Regions from separate parts of the Homo sapiens genome. Here region 2 is linked to region 1. Evidence: fine-mapped expression QTL. Tissue or cell type: whole blood. Region 1 holds a variant in brackets; the other region holds the start of a gene. All regions are shown on one strand. Distances are from middle to middle.

Evidence for each region. PIP is the estimated chance that this variant, and not a neighbour inherited with it, causes the effect.
Region 2: ANTXR2 starts here. The variant in region 1 is fine-mapped to the expression of ANTXR2 in whole blood (TOPMed, PIP 0.97).

What each region holds. Positions count from the first base shown.
Region 1 is chr4:80,188,224-80,196,330 of GRCh38, forward strand. PRDM8-AS1 (PRDM8 antisense RNA 1) reads right to left here. Exons shown (of 6, transcript NR_183912.1): 3 at 3,983-4,089; 4 at 1,733-1,928; 5 at 1,526-1,636. It also overlaps a transcript of PRDM8 not described here. Among named protein-coding and RNA genes, the nearest start is that of PRDM8-AS1, 5.1 kb to the right of the region's middle. RefSeq lists enhancers at 1,634-2,150, 2,151-2,666, 7,890-8,107. The variant C/T (reference allele first, on the strand shown) is at 3,510.
Region 2 is chr4:80,068,874-80,076,980 of GRCh38, forward strand. ANTXR2 (ANTXR cell adhesion molecule 2) reads right to left here and starts at 4,356. Exons shown (of 17, transcript NM_058172.6): 1 at 3,536-4,356; 2 at 2,710-2,781; 3 at 563-634. The coding sequence starts at 3,687. RefSeq lists a silencer at 3,646-3,805 and enhancers at 3,986-4,095, 4,426-4,705, 7,476-8,107.

The DNA of each region.
Region 1 (8,107 bases):
AGCATTCCAAAGCAGAAGACACTGAGCTGCTTTAAACTTTGGGCATTTCTTTTGTGCTAGGCTGAATGCTCTTCCAGCCTCATCACACTTAATTCTTATGCTGACCCTTTAAATATGATGTTATTGATGTTAAATATTATAATATCCCTATTTCACAGATCCCCCTGCTTCACAGGAAACAAAAGCATAGAGATACTAACTAACTCAAGCAAGTGGCCTAGCTGGGATCTGAACCCAGGCTTCATAACCACTCTATGAGATAGATGTTGTCTTTACTATTTTACAAATGAAGATACTAAATTTCAGAGAGGTTATGTAATTTGCTCAAACACACAGGTAGGAGATTACAGACCCCGGGTTCAGACCTGAGTGTTCAAAATCCCAAATATCAACCTCTTAACCACTGCCTCTTGGATCCTTCAGGAGGAAGAGCAACTGGGAACCCACAACTGACCGCTATTACCTGATCCCCAGTCCTAGCCTGGGCGGAAAGTTTCATATAACTTGAGACGGTGCGCGTGGGGAAAACGTAAAGCTCCCGTTCAGGGCTGCTCCTGCGCGGAAGCTGCGTGGGCTAGGAGAAGGAGGCTCCGCCGGGCATCGCGAGCCAGACAGGGAGCTCCGTCTGTCGTGCGGCCCACAGGGCTCCGCTCGAAGCCAGCGTGCGGGCGCTGGGACAAGGAGTGAGGGCAGCCACGGGGGGAACTCGCCCTGCACAAAGCTCCAGTGCCAGTGGTGTAGCTGCTGCCTCCGGGCATCAGTTACCTCGTCCTGCCAAGCTCCGGGACTTGGGTGTGTAGGGGAGGGCTGGAGCCATCCACCCGGTCCGCATCTGAGCCACAGCCCTTCACAGGAGTGGGAAGGTCACGCGCGCTCTAGGAGGCCCAGAGCCCTGGTCAGCGCTGGGAAGCCCGGTCCCCAGGTTTCTCTGCCCACCCCCAGACCTCGGCTTTTGGCCGCGGCGCTGGAGTTTACCATCAACGTGTTCACATGCTTCTCATCCTACGGAGTCGCCCGGATCAGCCTTTAACAGACTGACTTATCCGCGTTTCTAACGTGGCACCGCGACCCTGACCCTTGGCGCCTCTACCAGGCCTAAAGAAAGAACTTGCAAGCTGGGCATGGGAGGATGGAAGTCAAATATCAATCTACCGGGCAGGCCTTCCGCAGCAAACTGATTGCTCTTGCATTAAACCTGGGGTGGGGGTGGGAGGTGCGCGGTGCGGGCTGGGAAAGAGGGAAGGGATGACTGCCTTTCCTTCCATTTCTCCCTAGAAACTTCGGGAAATCCTCAGCCCTCGCTGGGTCACTTGGAAAGTGGGTTCACAATACAGTTCCCAGTTTTCTAATGAGGAAGCAAAGGCAGTGTTAGTAACAATAGGCAGCTCTGAAATGGGCATTTAGTATGTACCAAGCGTTGTTCTCTGCTTGCTAAGTATCACCTCAGCACTAACTTTATGAAAAGGGTCCCTTTAATGCTCTCAGTTCACAGATGAAAGACTGAAGTATAGACCAGTTAAATTACCTGAGTGGGGAGGGCTGGGATTCGAAGCCATGCAGTCCTGGTTCCCCTGTGGAATTGTGGGCTTTCCTGAGCCTGAATTGTTGGTCCTTCTTCTTGGGTCAGTTCTCCAGACTTCTAAGGAGAATGTTCATTAATGAAGGCATTGAGACCATCTCGTGTCCAAGACTGAAATGAAACTAGCCCTGGCTCTTGGAAGTGATCCCTTACCATCTGCTCAGCAACTGGCTTTCCAAAGCGCGTTCGCCCTCGTTCCCTTAGAGTCCTCACTGCGATCCGGGAGGCAGCTCTTGCCAGCTTTTGTTCAACCGGAGGAAAACCAAGGCTGAGCTAGGTCATCGGCAGCCCAGCTAGTAAGAAATGGGAACACAGGCTCCTGCCCTGCTAAACGAGATCAGGCGACCAGCTGGTCGAGGTCGTGCACAGAGGCAGGGAGAGAGGGTGGTGGAAAGAGTGTTAGGTTCCCGCAGGCCCCGCCCTTGGAACGCCTTTCCGCAGGTTAAGTGGTCACCTAGCGGGAAGCAAGTGATGGCACTAATTGCCGGTGGAAGGCTAAAGAACATGGGAAATGTGGCGGGCCCTTGGGAACTGCATTTCCTCCCTGCTTCGCCCAGGGCTCATTTGGAGCGTACCAAGCGCACCGCTTGGCCCCACACTGCCCCACATTCACGGTTTGCGCACTGTGCGTCTACAAGGGCGACGCCGGGCAGACGATGGCTTGTTTTGTTCTGCCCTGGTAGCCTCCTGTGTCAGGGCTCTGCACTCTTTGGTGAATCAGCTCAAACGATGTGATCTGTGTCTGCGCCTCCTGATACTGTGGGGGCGTTACTCTCCTTGGATCTCTCCCAGGGAAACCCGGTTTGCCAACATTGAAGTCCGTGATTTGGCCTTCTCTGCACTCTTAGTTCTGTCGCTGTACCTTTCACTAAGACATGGGCACCGGACAATCTAGACATCAGGAAGTGTCCGAGTCTAGCAGGCACTTCTGTGCCTTGTCTTGCTTCCCAAACTTAGGACTCAAACTCAGCTGTGTGGGGCCTTGAGGAGGAGCAGCTAATTCAGTCCCCCAGGTTAGAAATGAAACTCGTTGCATTCGGTGCATTGGCATTGGCTTTCTCGAGGATATTTTCACAAGTTTAGGGGAACCCCACTTATCTGGAACATAGATGTCTTAGGACTTCAGTAAACTGACTCTAGAATATAGATAATGCTGTGGGATAGTTGATCACACACACAAGATATTAGATAGTAACATTATACTCAGGAAATATATTCTTTATAGCTATTCAATTTGCTCCCTTGGGACCAATTGCTGTCCTGTATGACTTCACACAAACTATTTTCTCAAAACCACCCTACATGAAAACATCCAAAAAAGAGCACTGGCTACTTAATGGACAAGCATCCAAGTAAAATGACAGTCCTAAAACTTATTTTTAATTGCTGCCTTTGACAACATTCACCCCAACCTTCTTAAACACACACCCATACCCATATATGCATAGAGGACAATTTCTGCTCAGGTATAAAGTTATTCAGGCCTAAGTTAAATTCTAGGCCTAGCAAATCTCAACATCTAGGTCATTATATTCAACATGTTTATTCTTAGGAATGTATGAGTGTTTTATTTAGCAATTCCGGGTATTATTTCTTTGAAAAATATGAGTTTTCCTTTAAACTTCCTTAAAAGGAGATTATGAATAATACCACGGTTACTATATTACAGATACTATCAAATCAGCCTGGGAAGCATCTTTTCGCTCAGCAAGTTCAAGAGAACAAATATGTTACAATCCTTGCCTATTCTTGCCTCCACTTCATAATGTAAGTCCAGAAGTGTTTATAGTAATAATGATGTTGCTGCATTTGTGACATGTTGATCTTTGAATTTTTTTAAGGAGACCACCTTTCCAAGTATTAGCAGTGAGGAAAGACTTACATTGGTAGCTTTCAAGTGTTTTTGAAAATCTTCTGAAAACTAACACCT[C/T]TTCATATAATGTTTTGGGAGACATCCCCCATTGATGCTAAATTAATACCCCTGGATTAAATCATAGAACACCTGGGATTAATTGAACTGAAATCATGAAAGATAGTTTTCACTCAGAGTTCAGTTGGCAATATGAGCAAGGGAGCAGTTTGGGAGCATAATTTGTGAAGAAATTGAACCATATTTCCAATACTCTTTAATACAAGGTAAATCACCACTATTGTGGTTCCTAACTGGTATCCGCTTCTCAAATACTCTTTGTCTCTCTCTTTCTTCCTTTCTTTTTACTTTCTTTCTCTCGCTTCTCTTTTCCTGGAGAAAATGAAATGTCTCTCTCTTCAGGCCTCAGGAAAGTGTACCATGGGTTTATTCCAAGTACTGGACATTTGTGTCCCCTGCCTAGACCTCTTTCCCAGAAGAGCCATGCTTTCTGCTGCTTTTTCCCCAGCAGCCCGAATTCTTACAGTCCATACCTCAGAAAGCTAACTGGGATTAGATGTCAAGGAGTGTAGTCTGCCCAGGATATATATGCTGTGTGTCTATCGTTGCCTCTTTATTTAACTCAGGAATTACAATCCACCTAAAACAGAGAAGAAAAGGGTGGCACACAGGTACTGAATTGGGATGATGTCCATTCTCCTGGCTGTGTGAAGAAATTTGATGTAAAGCCTCTCAATGTTGTCACATTCCCAAGGCCTAGAGTTAGACTTCTCAAAATTTCATTTGAGACTGCTGGACACCAATTTGAGACTGCTAGACATCCCCTGATCTGCAGTCTGCCTAAAAATCCTGACCCAGAGGGTAAGGAGGTTCAGAGTGACTGATGGAGAACTGGCTACAACCAGTCAACCCCCTTCACACTGAGATGCGTTCAAAGGGTGTGGTGTCTGAGTCTAGGAAGGACTTTGGAACCTACAGATTTGACAAAAATCCAAGCCTTTTCTTGCCAGATCTTTACACACTCATCTGGGGAAGAGTATAACATTTGGGAGAACCCAGGGGGTTGAAATAGTGGATATTGGATTTGGTTCAGAGGTCACACTCACACAGATGAGTATGGGGCACTGATTTCATATCTGTTGGTAGTTGTGCACAATGTCACTTCGGTTTGCTAGCCCTTCTAAAAGTCATACTCAGAGGCCATTAAGCCAGTTCACTACAACCCAGATCCAGGAGAGGAAGATAATAACATACAGCTTTCAAAGACTATCCCATTCTCAGCTGAACTCCAACACAAGTGTAAGTAAAACTTGGGAATGGCTAAGAGAGAAAGTTTTAAACTTGAGAAAGGTAGATTATCATTGTAATGATAATGGTGGTAGTAGTAGCTGCAGGAGCAGCAGGATTAAAAGCAGGATCATTTACGAGGAAAAGCCCAAGAGAGAAAAGTATGAGTCAGAAGTAATGATCCCTACAGTTGGGAGCCTGAAGTCCTTCCTCACAGGCTACAAAATTACCCAACCCTGAGTCTCTGGCTTTCCCAGGGCCAGCCTGGAAAACATTTGCTCATGTAATACCCAGTGAGCCAACTACAATACTTAGGGTGAGGAACAGACCTAAACTGAGTTTGCAATGTATACTTATAAAAAACGAGTAGCCCTTCCCACACCCCACCCCCTCACATCATCCTTTACCCAACTCAGCAAGCATGGCTCTTCTCGACTCACCAAAATGTAAAACAAACAAACAAACCCCTCTGGGTCTTTTTAAAAACCCACCATGTATCTTTCTCTTGATAAAGGCAAAGTGGTAGAAAATGAGTTAACAACCCTCTGAACAACATTTTTGGCACAGGCCTGGTGTTTTTCTTAATTGACCAGCCCATCATTTCTGTTTCTCTTTCATGTACAAGTAGTCAGTAAAGTTTATCCCTTAAAAAGTTCCTTATTCTGAATGGTGAGGCTAGGTAATACAATACTCCTCCTTGAAGATCTATTCTCTTCCTCCCTCAACCCTCACAGCCCCTTCCAGAGACCTCCCTGTGGGAAATTAATAAGCTTAGGAAGGAGCTGCCACTGTCTGCTCCATTGGCATCCTCTTATCTTCCAGTGTGTGGGTTTTTTCCCCCCCTTTCACCATGAATTGCCATACTCTTTTGACAATCAAGCCTTTGCTGGCATAGTGCTTTGGCAATAGAGTTAGAGGTGGGTAAGCCAGGACCTAGAAAGATATAGAAAAAGAAAATCAGTGTGTTTTCATTCTCATGGGATAATAATCTTTACGTGAATTATTCTTGGAGATGTTACCTGCCTCTTATCACAGAAGTTGAAATATTTTGGGCTCCATTTTTGAACCCTGGGAAGAGAAAGAGTGTTCCCATTCTAATACTCCCTAAGAATTAAAATTCCCTTTCTTACCCTTTCTCCACCCTCTCACTTAGGTCATAAAAGCCACCTGGGGTGTCATTTATCAACCTCTCTCCAGCCCACTCTTCCAAAATAACACTACAGTTTCCTACATGTGTATTTTTGCCAGGACTCCAAAGAGCCTTGCTAAAGTGGAACAAGGTGAGCATACCCACTCTTCATTGTCATTCTTCTAATTACTTAATTGGAAATAAAATCCTAGGGAAGAGAGCTCCAAATATATGCATAAACCCATTGTTCCATATGAATTACATAAAACTATTGACTAGGTACACTTTTATAGTACTGTCTGAGGCTGAATAAATGCCTCAACCCTTCATTTAGTATCAGTGAATTCCAGTAAGTATTAATGCAGAGTGATTTCAAAGTAGTTTATGTACCATTTTAGCCCATAAATTTCTACAGAAATAAAAATAATTTGTAGATTTTCTTTATCCCCTATTAATTATTGTCATTTAGGACATTTATATTACCAAGCAAAATGTGTACCACTTAAATTACTAGAAAACTCTTCAAGTAAGAATTTCGACTTAATCTTACTTATATTGTTTTGTTATGTCAGTTATTTAACTCATAATAAAAAGGGTAGGTCAGATTCATAAAATGTGAGAAATTCTTATATTTAAGGATCTCTACCTGAAAGCAGTAGGAAAAAAATTAATTAGAGGGCAAAAAAGTGAAACTGAAATGAAGCATCTGTTGGCCAGATTCTCAATAAATTGCTCCCTTCTCAGATGTATAAAATTGTCGCTGTTTTCTAGCTTAAGACATAAAAAGGTCAAGCTGTTCCACCCTCAACTTAAGTACCAAAAACATTATTTTATACAAACTGGAGTCAAGGTTTTAGTACCTCAAAAGAAATATAGTTTAAATGGTCTCTGTATTTAATAAGAGAAAGGCCAGGCACAAGAAAAATGCCTTCCATTTAGAGTTTATTTTCTAAATGTCCACATTCTGGAGTAGAGGCTTACATATTTACAATATGTAAGATAATTTTTTAATGGTTTGCATGGACAGATGACTTTTCCTGAAAGATAAAATTCCAATTCTCTAAATAACAGCAAAAGAAAGCATTAAGGAGTGTTCTGTTAGACAGATTAATGAAATTATGTTCTTAAACACTGCTCCTCACACACCATATTGCATTTATCAGTCTAGTTTCTAAGGGACCACATGACTCTCTTATGGCTACTTTTCTTTCTTAACTTGAAGTTGTTTACACCCGTGCCTCTTCTGCTCTTTATTTTTCTTCTTTCTTCTACTCTGAATTAACTTAAGTTTCTGGCCACTATTCTTCAAACCTGAGGTTTATTTTCCAGATGTTTGAGACATTATTTTCACATTTCTAATGCTTCCACCCATTCTTTAAAGAAGTATTAGGGGACCATGTGTCCATACTTTGTGTGTGTGTGTGTGTGTGTGTTTGTGTGTGTGTAGAGAGAGAGAGAGACTGAGAAGTGAATCTAGTATTCAATGGAGCAATCAGTCAGAAGACAATTGGTAGCTCAGTATAGCTGCAGATTCTTACATACAGGCATGTGAGAGAGCCCTCATTGCACTGAGCCTTGGTCATTAGGAGCCAACCTTAGCCGAAGTAGATAAAATTGCACATAGCCAAAGTACATAAAACTGCACTTCAAGAAGCTTTCTTTGAAAAGTCAGTAGCTAACCTGAAAACTAAGGGATTCCCCATTTTCTCTGAATATATGGGGATTTTGCAGCCCTTCCTTCTGTGAATTTCAGCTTAATTCTAGGCAGCAATTCGGAATTTGCCTGGGGTACTAACCAGAAAAGAGAAGGAAATACACACACACACACACACACACACACAGAGAGAGAGAGAGAGAGAGAGAGAGAGAGAACAAGGAAGAACATGAACTTCATGGGAAAGTCCTTGCACTTGTTTCTCCTCAGCAAAATCCTCCCCTGGCCTCCTGGGACTGCAGTCACCAGGCTGTCAAAGCCTCAATACCCCACTGAGTTCCAGAGAAGGGTCTCAAAGCTGGGAGAGGATCAAACTAACATGGTAAGCTGCTCTTTGCCAACTCCCCAAATACATTATTTCAACACTAGGAAAAACAACAACGAGGCTGTCTCCTTACGTTGTGGTTCTGCCTCCTCCACTTTAGCTAGCTACACAATCCGATTTATCCTAATGCTGACAGATTGCCCACTTCAAAGTAGTGGTGGTGTGTGTGGGGCTGAAGGAGTTGAGAAACTGTCTATACCACT
Region 2 (8,107 bases), 120 kb before region 1:
GTCTGAAAAAGACACCTTTTAAAAAACACTAAGGAGATTAAATAGATAGGTAGATAGATATAGAGATATATTGGTATACATATTGATATATACTAAGTTCCCTTATAAAGGTGAATATATTCAGCATTAATGGACCTCAGAGAAAGACCAGAAATCCAGGATGTCTACTGAATCTAGGAAATTATCCAAAAGGATCCATATCTTTCTCCCCCTCAATGTTCTTCAAATTCCTGGTTGATTAATATATTATATCTAAACAAGAAAAATGTAGAACTACTTACAGTAACAGAGAGGCCGGGGAAGGTAGGAAGTGGTGAATATACAACTAAGACAGGGATCTAGATTTCACTGCACATTCCACAGCCACTATAAATGATATTGATTTTCAGATTAACTGCTCTTTTATATTACTCATACCTCCTTTCCCTTCTATTAGAGAACTGAATTGTCTGTGCATCTGCTTGATTCCACTGAGAGGCCTGAATCACCACTTGGAAATATCAATCATGCCTTTAAAATTCATCTCTACTAAAAGCCTGCAGTGAAATGATAATGCACTAACCTGTCTCCAGTTAATGGCAAAATAATAGTTGCTTGAGAAGAAAACACAATGAAAGATAATCTCATTTCAGGGCTGCAAAATAAGAAAAGAGGCAGTTAAAACATTTTTAAAAAGAAATATTGATACGATACAGATGTATAGTTAGGGAGGTTCATTTAAAATTGGTCTCACTGAATGGTCCAGGCTTCTTTTAAATGACATTCCCTAAGTAAATAGACGAACTCTGCTTAACATTGTTGCATAAGTCATTTTGGATTTAGTCAACGCTTCCCAGCACTCACATACTCCTCCATGACCCATAAGGACTTGCATTTAGAGAGAGACTAACTGGAAAGATAAATTCTAAGCTGATGTAAAATTCTTTCGTAGAAAATTCCTCTTCCCTTGGTTTTCTACAACATTTCCTTTAAAGGTGGCCAGGCCCTTCAAAGTGATTATGGTTATCAACACTTATGGGTGGAGAGTACCCAGTTTGACTTAATGACCATAACTATGATATGAGTCTATAAAAAAGTCATCCTGAAGTAAGACTACTTAAAGAGTCATGGAAAATGTGAAAGAAACAATAAATCACTTTCTGCTTAGGCATTTTTTATTTTCTAAGTCTCAAACATGCTATTTTCCATTGGCAACAAGTGCCCCAGTCAGCTATATCTTTCAAGTTTTAGGCATGTCTCTCACAGAACGGTTCTTGCTTCTCGGACACTCTCTGCAACTACTACTAAGATTCAAAACTGAAGATATGAAACTAGAATCTATAAACTGAAAATCAGAATCCTCTCAAAGGCTTATACATATTTTAAAAGTCAGTCTCTTCATTAGTCACCCCTTATTCACTTCCTACAATGTATTGTTAGTAATTGAGCAACTAGGCTTGAGCCAGACAACTGTGTATTATAGAATTCCAACTTAAAAACCAGATCAATGAGTTAAGATAAGAGCTTGCTTCTTTAAAATGTTGTAGTGATGTGATTCATTGCTTTTGATCAAAATCTACATGACACCCTTTTCACATTGAAGGATTAAATTAGAAAATTTATAAACAACTGTCTGTTCTGCCTTTGACATTTAGGGACATAGGATCTTGTTTGTTTTTCTTTCCTAGACAGTTTTACCTCAGACCCTGTCCAGAAATGAGTGTTAAACTTGGCTTCTTAAGCAAGGGACTGATGATTGAACATGGACAGGCATACATTTTTATAGGGATAACTTTACTGCTGCCAATAACTGAAAGCAAGGATTGCCTAGGCCTCTACAGATTGTTTGAAGTTACTTGCAACATGACTTTCAAAATGTTTTGATCATCCAAGCCTGTTTTACAGAAAACATTTGGGCTAACAAGACTGAAAGAAGCAATATTTAATGATACAGTTCCTATTCATGTCCTTTCCATTATCTTGATAAACTTGTGTTTGCTCATTGCATTTTTTCTTTAAAAAAAAAAGAAGGAAAAAAAAAGCCTCAAAAGCCTAGTGTCCTGAGGTTATTTTTAAATAGGAGATGCCACTAATTCCTAGTTACCTCTAAATAAGAGAGTAAGCTGGATTTCATACCAGTAATGCTTTTTATAGGAGAGGAAACCAGTCTTTCCTGGTGATGCTTATTGCATATATAGAACAGTTAAATTTTAAACCAACCACACACCCACACATTGTGTAAACACAAGTCGTTGCTTTAAACACACACACAAGTGCCTTTTCTGGTAGCGGGTTATTAACACATGTTCATTTGAAGTTTTCCAACACTTTTTGTTTGTTTTAATGAGGGCCTCTATAATGCTAAGAAATGTGTGGAAAGAAAAATATATTATGGATACTATTCGCATAAAATTTATTTTTTTAATGTGATAAATTATGAGAAAGCATAACTGAAATTCAAAACAGATGAAAATTCGGAAAGAAAAAGACATTTGGAATAGTATTTGAAGATGCTTCCCCAGAGTCTGAGCCAAGTTTCTGGGATCCAGATGAAATAAGCCCTCAAGGACTGAAGGGCTGTCCTAATAACAGCATGTGTGCAATACGACCTTGAGGCACTTAAAAGTAACATTTCAGGAAAAGTTTTTCCTATAAAAGGTTTCAGAAAAGGGAAATTCTACACTTTGCTCTACTTCTCCACTGCCTAGAAAAGTAAAGTAAGAAAGATACCTCACAAATCTCTCCGCAAGTTGCTGTACGAAATTATAAATTTCAATCCAGTTATTTGCCACACTCCCAGACCTGAAAGATGAAATTGAACTGATCAGAGAAACAAAACACGGAACTGAAAAGTAAACATTTTGAAATGGTTCCTTCTTCAATGCCACGAACATAGGGGCACCTGGCCTCTTTTTCAAGCTAAGTAAGGGTATCTGTAGCTGAAACTTTGGTGGTACCCAGAGTTAAAGAAGTCAGTCCCAGAGCAAGACTCCGTCAAAAAAAAAAAGAAGAAGAAGAAGTCAGCCCGTTTTCTGGGGTGGGTAAATACCTGCCTAATTGTTTAGAGTGGAACCCAGCTCTTCAGAGTAAACACAAAAGCCTTTCTTCGCAGGAAATGCAAACCACATTGGGCATGTTAACCCTAGGCTTTTCCTGGCTCCAATGAAAGCGCTATGATTAGGATAAAACCAGGCAAACTTTAGCCTGCGTACGAGCAGGGTCGAGGAGGTGGGTAAGGACTCTGTGGCCGATGGAGCGTGGCCCGCAAGAGGCCACACTCCCATTTCCCAAGAGGCCAAAAGACTGGCAAACAGTGAATACCCCAACTCCCCAAAGAGCCAAGTAGCCCGGGGCTCCAATCACTACCCCCGACCCGGCTGATCTCCGCCCACACAGATCCGAACGCGCTTGCCCTTTGAAAGAAGACAGCAACAGGGCACCCCTCCGCGGGTTTCCAACACCACTCCCCGGGGTGCGCACACGCATCTCAGCCTCAGCCCCAGCTGATCCAGTGCCGCCCTCACCAGGAGACCCTGGACCTCCCTCGCACACTCACTTGTCCAGGACGAAGTAGAGATCAAAGGCTCTTCTGCAGGAGGGCTGCTCCTGGGCGCGCAGCAGCCCCCCGGGACCGCTGAGCACCAACAGCCACAGCCCGGGGAACAGCCAGCTCCCGGGGCTGCGGGCCGGGGACCGCTCCGCCACCATCCTGCGGCCGGGGGCCTGAGACTCCCTCCCGCTCGCAGTCCCCTAAGCTCAGGAGGGTCGCAAAGGTGGCGGGAGTCACCCGGCACGCACTCTGGGGTGGGGGGCGGCGAGCAGCTGAGACGCCGGCGCCTGCGGCAGCGGGACCCACCAGCTGACAGGGAGGGAGAGAGGGAGGTCCTGAGAGGACAAAGGGAGTCTCCGCCACCGCCGCAGCTGCCGCCGGAACTCTTGACGAATCCCAGTGGAAGCGCGATCCAGTCCTCCCCCTCCCGATTCCGGAGAGTTCCTGCAGACAATGCGGGCCCACGGCGACAGCTCGCGAAAGGAGTTCCTCTCCGGCCTGGGGCCGAGCCTCCAGCGCCCGCCTCGGACCCGGACCTGGAACCCACCCCGCCTGGAGGGCTGAAGTCCCCCCCGCTGCCGTGCGCTTCGGGACAAGGGGTCCCTGGGACGCGGCGACGGCAGAACAAACTAGGAGTGGAGACTCTTCTCCTCCGGCGGCCCCAACTCCCTCCGCACTCCGAAACTTTCCTCCCGGTGCTGGACTCTGGCACTGCGCTGACAGGCCGTCCCCTTTAGGGGAGGAGGCTAGCTGGCCCTGGGACTCCCGGCTGGAGAGAAGCCACGCCGAGGGCAGGAGCCCGCTCGGGCCGGGTCTGGGCTGCGTGTGTCAGTGTGCGCCTGGGGACGAGGGCGGGGCCCCAGCTGAAGCCTCCGAGCCACACATGCACACTTGTGGGTTCCTGCCGAGTTGAAGATGACTAACGCTTGCCAGATTTGGGAAAGGGAAGAAGGAGTTTAGAAAAACAAAAGTTATCTAGAAACTAAACATACCCGTATGTCCTGCAGGCCTGGCCTATTTTAGCAGCTGTGCTAAAACAGCCCCCATGCGTGGTTCACAAACCCAAGACTAAGGATTCCATGGGAGGTGACGGCCTCCTCACTCCTCACTCCACCCCACCCCTACTACCACAAACACTCTTTATGAACTTCCTCTTTTTCTTCTAAAGAAACCTGCTTAGTTTTTTTTTTTTTTTTCTTTAAAAAAAGCCAAGCCAAGGAAAGGCCGGAGTGGGGAGTGGGAGGGGATAGCAGGCCTCTTTGGGAGTGGAAAGTTGTACCTCAAAATATTTCAGCCCACTGTCATTTCCCTGCAAGCTCCAGTTTTGGAGAATTTCAGCTTTGGGCAAGCTAGGTCTCCTTTGCAAAACTTGTGCAAGCACTCAAGTTTGTGCACAAATCCTCTGTCTACTAGTTCTGCTCTCCCTCCTCTCTCTTCCCCCCACCTCCGTGACTTCCGCCCTCCCTTAGTCAAAACTGGCTTTTAGAACCTAAATACCTTTTCATTTTTAACAAAATCAATGCTTTATGTAGTACTTACATATACATCTCTTCTGTTTGTTGCCATATGTATTTAACTTTTCATTTATTATATTTGATATACAACCAGATATGTCAGCTCTTTGAAGATAAAAATTAGTTACTTTAACAAAGATTCATTGAGTGCCTATTATTTGCTAGGCACTGTTCCAGAAGTGGAGGTTAGTGCACAGAACAAGATAACAAGCCCTTGCTTTCATGAAGCTGACAGTCTGGCTGAAGAGTGAAAACAGACAATAAGAAATAAATACATAAGCAAGGAAAAAAAATGTCCATATTGGAAAGGTGGCCTGTAGAAATTTAAAATATTGTGATGATAAAGAATGACAGACTCAGTGACTAACAAAAAAGACCCAGTCATTCCAAGAGCTCTAAGGGGAAACATTTGGAGTTACTGCAAAGGTCCATAGACATTAGCTTAGCATATTCAAAAAAGAAAAAAAAAAAACTGTGTAGCTGGAGCTTTGCAGGTAAGATGATGTAAGACAAATAGGCAAGGGCCAGATTATGTGATGCTTTGTTTACTGAGATAAGGAATTCAGATATTTAATATTGAGTGTGACAGGAGGTTATTAGAGGGGTTTAAGCCCAGGAGTGGAGTGGCAGATGAATTGATATGATCTGTGTTTTTCAAAGATCATTCTGGCTGCAATGAGACAATGAATTTGGAGTTAGCAACAGTGACAACAGGGAGAGCAGTTAGGAGACTATTGCAGTAGCAACATGTTGACAAACAATCCTGAGGTTCATAAATTTGGAAAGGAGAACTTCATTTCTTATAAAGGGTTACAGCTGCAGGCTGGACATCTTGACAGGCTGGGAAGTGTAGCCTCTGGCAGAGACAAAAAGCAGGCACTTTGAGGGAGGAAAGGGTGGAACAGGAATTTATGCTAAATGAGTTGGCCAAGTATACATATTCAACAGGTTATAGGAGGAACTATGAATATTTCTGAAGCAAGGGGTACATGAACTATGCATATTTCTGAAGCAGGTGGGTTAAGTTTCCACATCAAAGTGAACATGGGACATATGCAACATGCATGTTTAGTAAGCAAACATGAATAGTAAGCAAACATGCAAGTTGCATATGTCTCATGTTCACTTTGAGGTGGAGACTTAACAATTAAATGTATTATAATTAGGCCCTATATGTCAAAAGGTGAAACAGAAGACATGAAGGCACTCAGTGCCACAGCCTCTGTAAACCAGCCAGAACCAGTCTATGGTCAGTGGTCTCTTATCAGGAGAGTTATTAAAATCAGTCTCTTGTCCAGTCAGAGCTGTAGTTATGGCTTGTGGAACAGGGGTAGGGGTGGAGGATTAATTAGTTAGTGTCTTGCAGTCAGTAAGATGCAATTGTTTCAATATTGCTTATCTGGAGGCCAGTGTTTGTTTAGATGCTAGAGAAAAAGAAAACCCTTTTGGCAGTTAGAATATAGTTTATTTTTTAAGTGTAGGAGTGTGTGACTTGACCTTTGCCTGGCATGGTCTTAGGTCTTGTTTATAATTTGGTGTCTTATGAACACAGAGTACATTCTGTCAGTCTTATCATCTCTATTTTAACAAAGGCAAAATAAAATGGTACCTTGGACCATCATCACTATAGCAACTAACCTGAGAATTATGAATGGATGAAAACTTCAATATATACCGGCAGACCTCCATTTTGAAAATATGCTCATTACAAATGTCAAACATTGAATGGAGGGTGGCTAACATCCCTTCTCACTCTTTGCCAACTGGTCACTTGGGGATGGAAATTCCACCACTATCAACTGCATCAATCTGCCACTTTTTACCTGATGGAGTGAGGAAGATACTGAGGGGCAAGGGGCTAGCTAGATGGAAGATAACTTTTACTTTTGTAAGAAGGAAACATACAGCCTTCATAATTTTCAAATAATTAAGCACTAGAAGCAAGTCCTTAATTAGTCCTGAGACTAATTAAGAAAGTCCTTAAAGCACCTTAATTCTGTCCTCCTTGGCTTCATCTTTTCTTGAGGTTCTAAAATACTGATTACTTCTGCAGCCCTCCAGTCTCCAGGTATGTGTTGCCACTTCTCATTTCACATTTTGGTCCAACCTGAATACATAAATCTCCCTGACTTCCCATAAGAGAACTGAAACAGGCTGACATTTTCAGGAAATTTGTATCAACAGCTTGTTCATCTTTCAAGGTTTTGTATTCATTGCTGGTTGAAACTGGTTTCCATTTTCAACTTTAATCTTAAGACAGAATCAAAGATATTATATGCCACATCAGCATGTTATTGAATAAAATCTGGGGAAAAAATGTATCCCCCCAAAAAAGTGACAATTGGTTTCATGTTAGAAGGAGACAGAAGGCAAAGAAATATGAGACATGATACTAACCATGTACTCTGTCCTCCTAAGGAAGTATTTTAAACTCACATTTGTTGGTTTCCTTTATCCCTAGTCTTGACTAATTACCTGCTCATCTTCTGGGACTTCCCAAACTGGTCTAAGAATCCATCTTGTCCTAGGTTCAAACTAAAGCAAAATACCTCAATTTAAAACTCATTCTTCCTCAAAATTTCCAGGCCTTCTGAGAGTACTCCCACTCAGTTCTTCTTTCTTGAGTACAAGGCTGGCAGAGAATATTGACATACCAGAAAAATAGTAGCACTTTTTTGTTTATCTGTTTGCTTGGGTAAAGAATTCATCCCAGTCCTGGAGCATTTTGCATCTCACTGACTTGCTCATGTAAGATCTACAGCAAAGCAAAAAATGGCCTCAGACCAATAACTAATCAAATCACTTTCATTTAATAAAAATTAATCAGAAGATCATTAATTACTGGGGCAGCCAAGTGTCCTAATTTGTCACAGACTGAGGGGTGTCTTCAGTCTCATGGACATGGGACTTTCCATGCTAAAACTAGGGCAGTCCCTGGGATAGTTCCTGGCAAGCAAAACTGTTGGTCATTCTTTTCCTAAGCAATAATGAGGGAAGATGAAAGCAAAAGCAGACATGAAAATCTCTCCAAGCCATGAAAAAGAAGTGGTAGCAACAGCAGTAC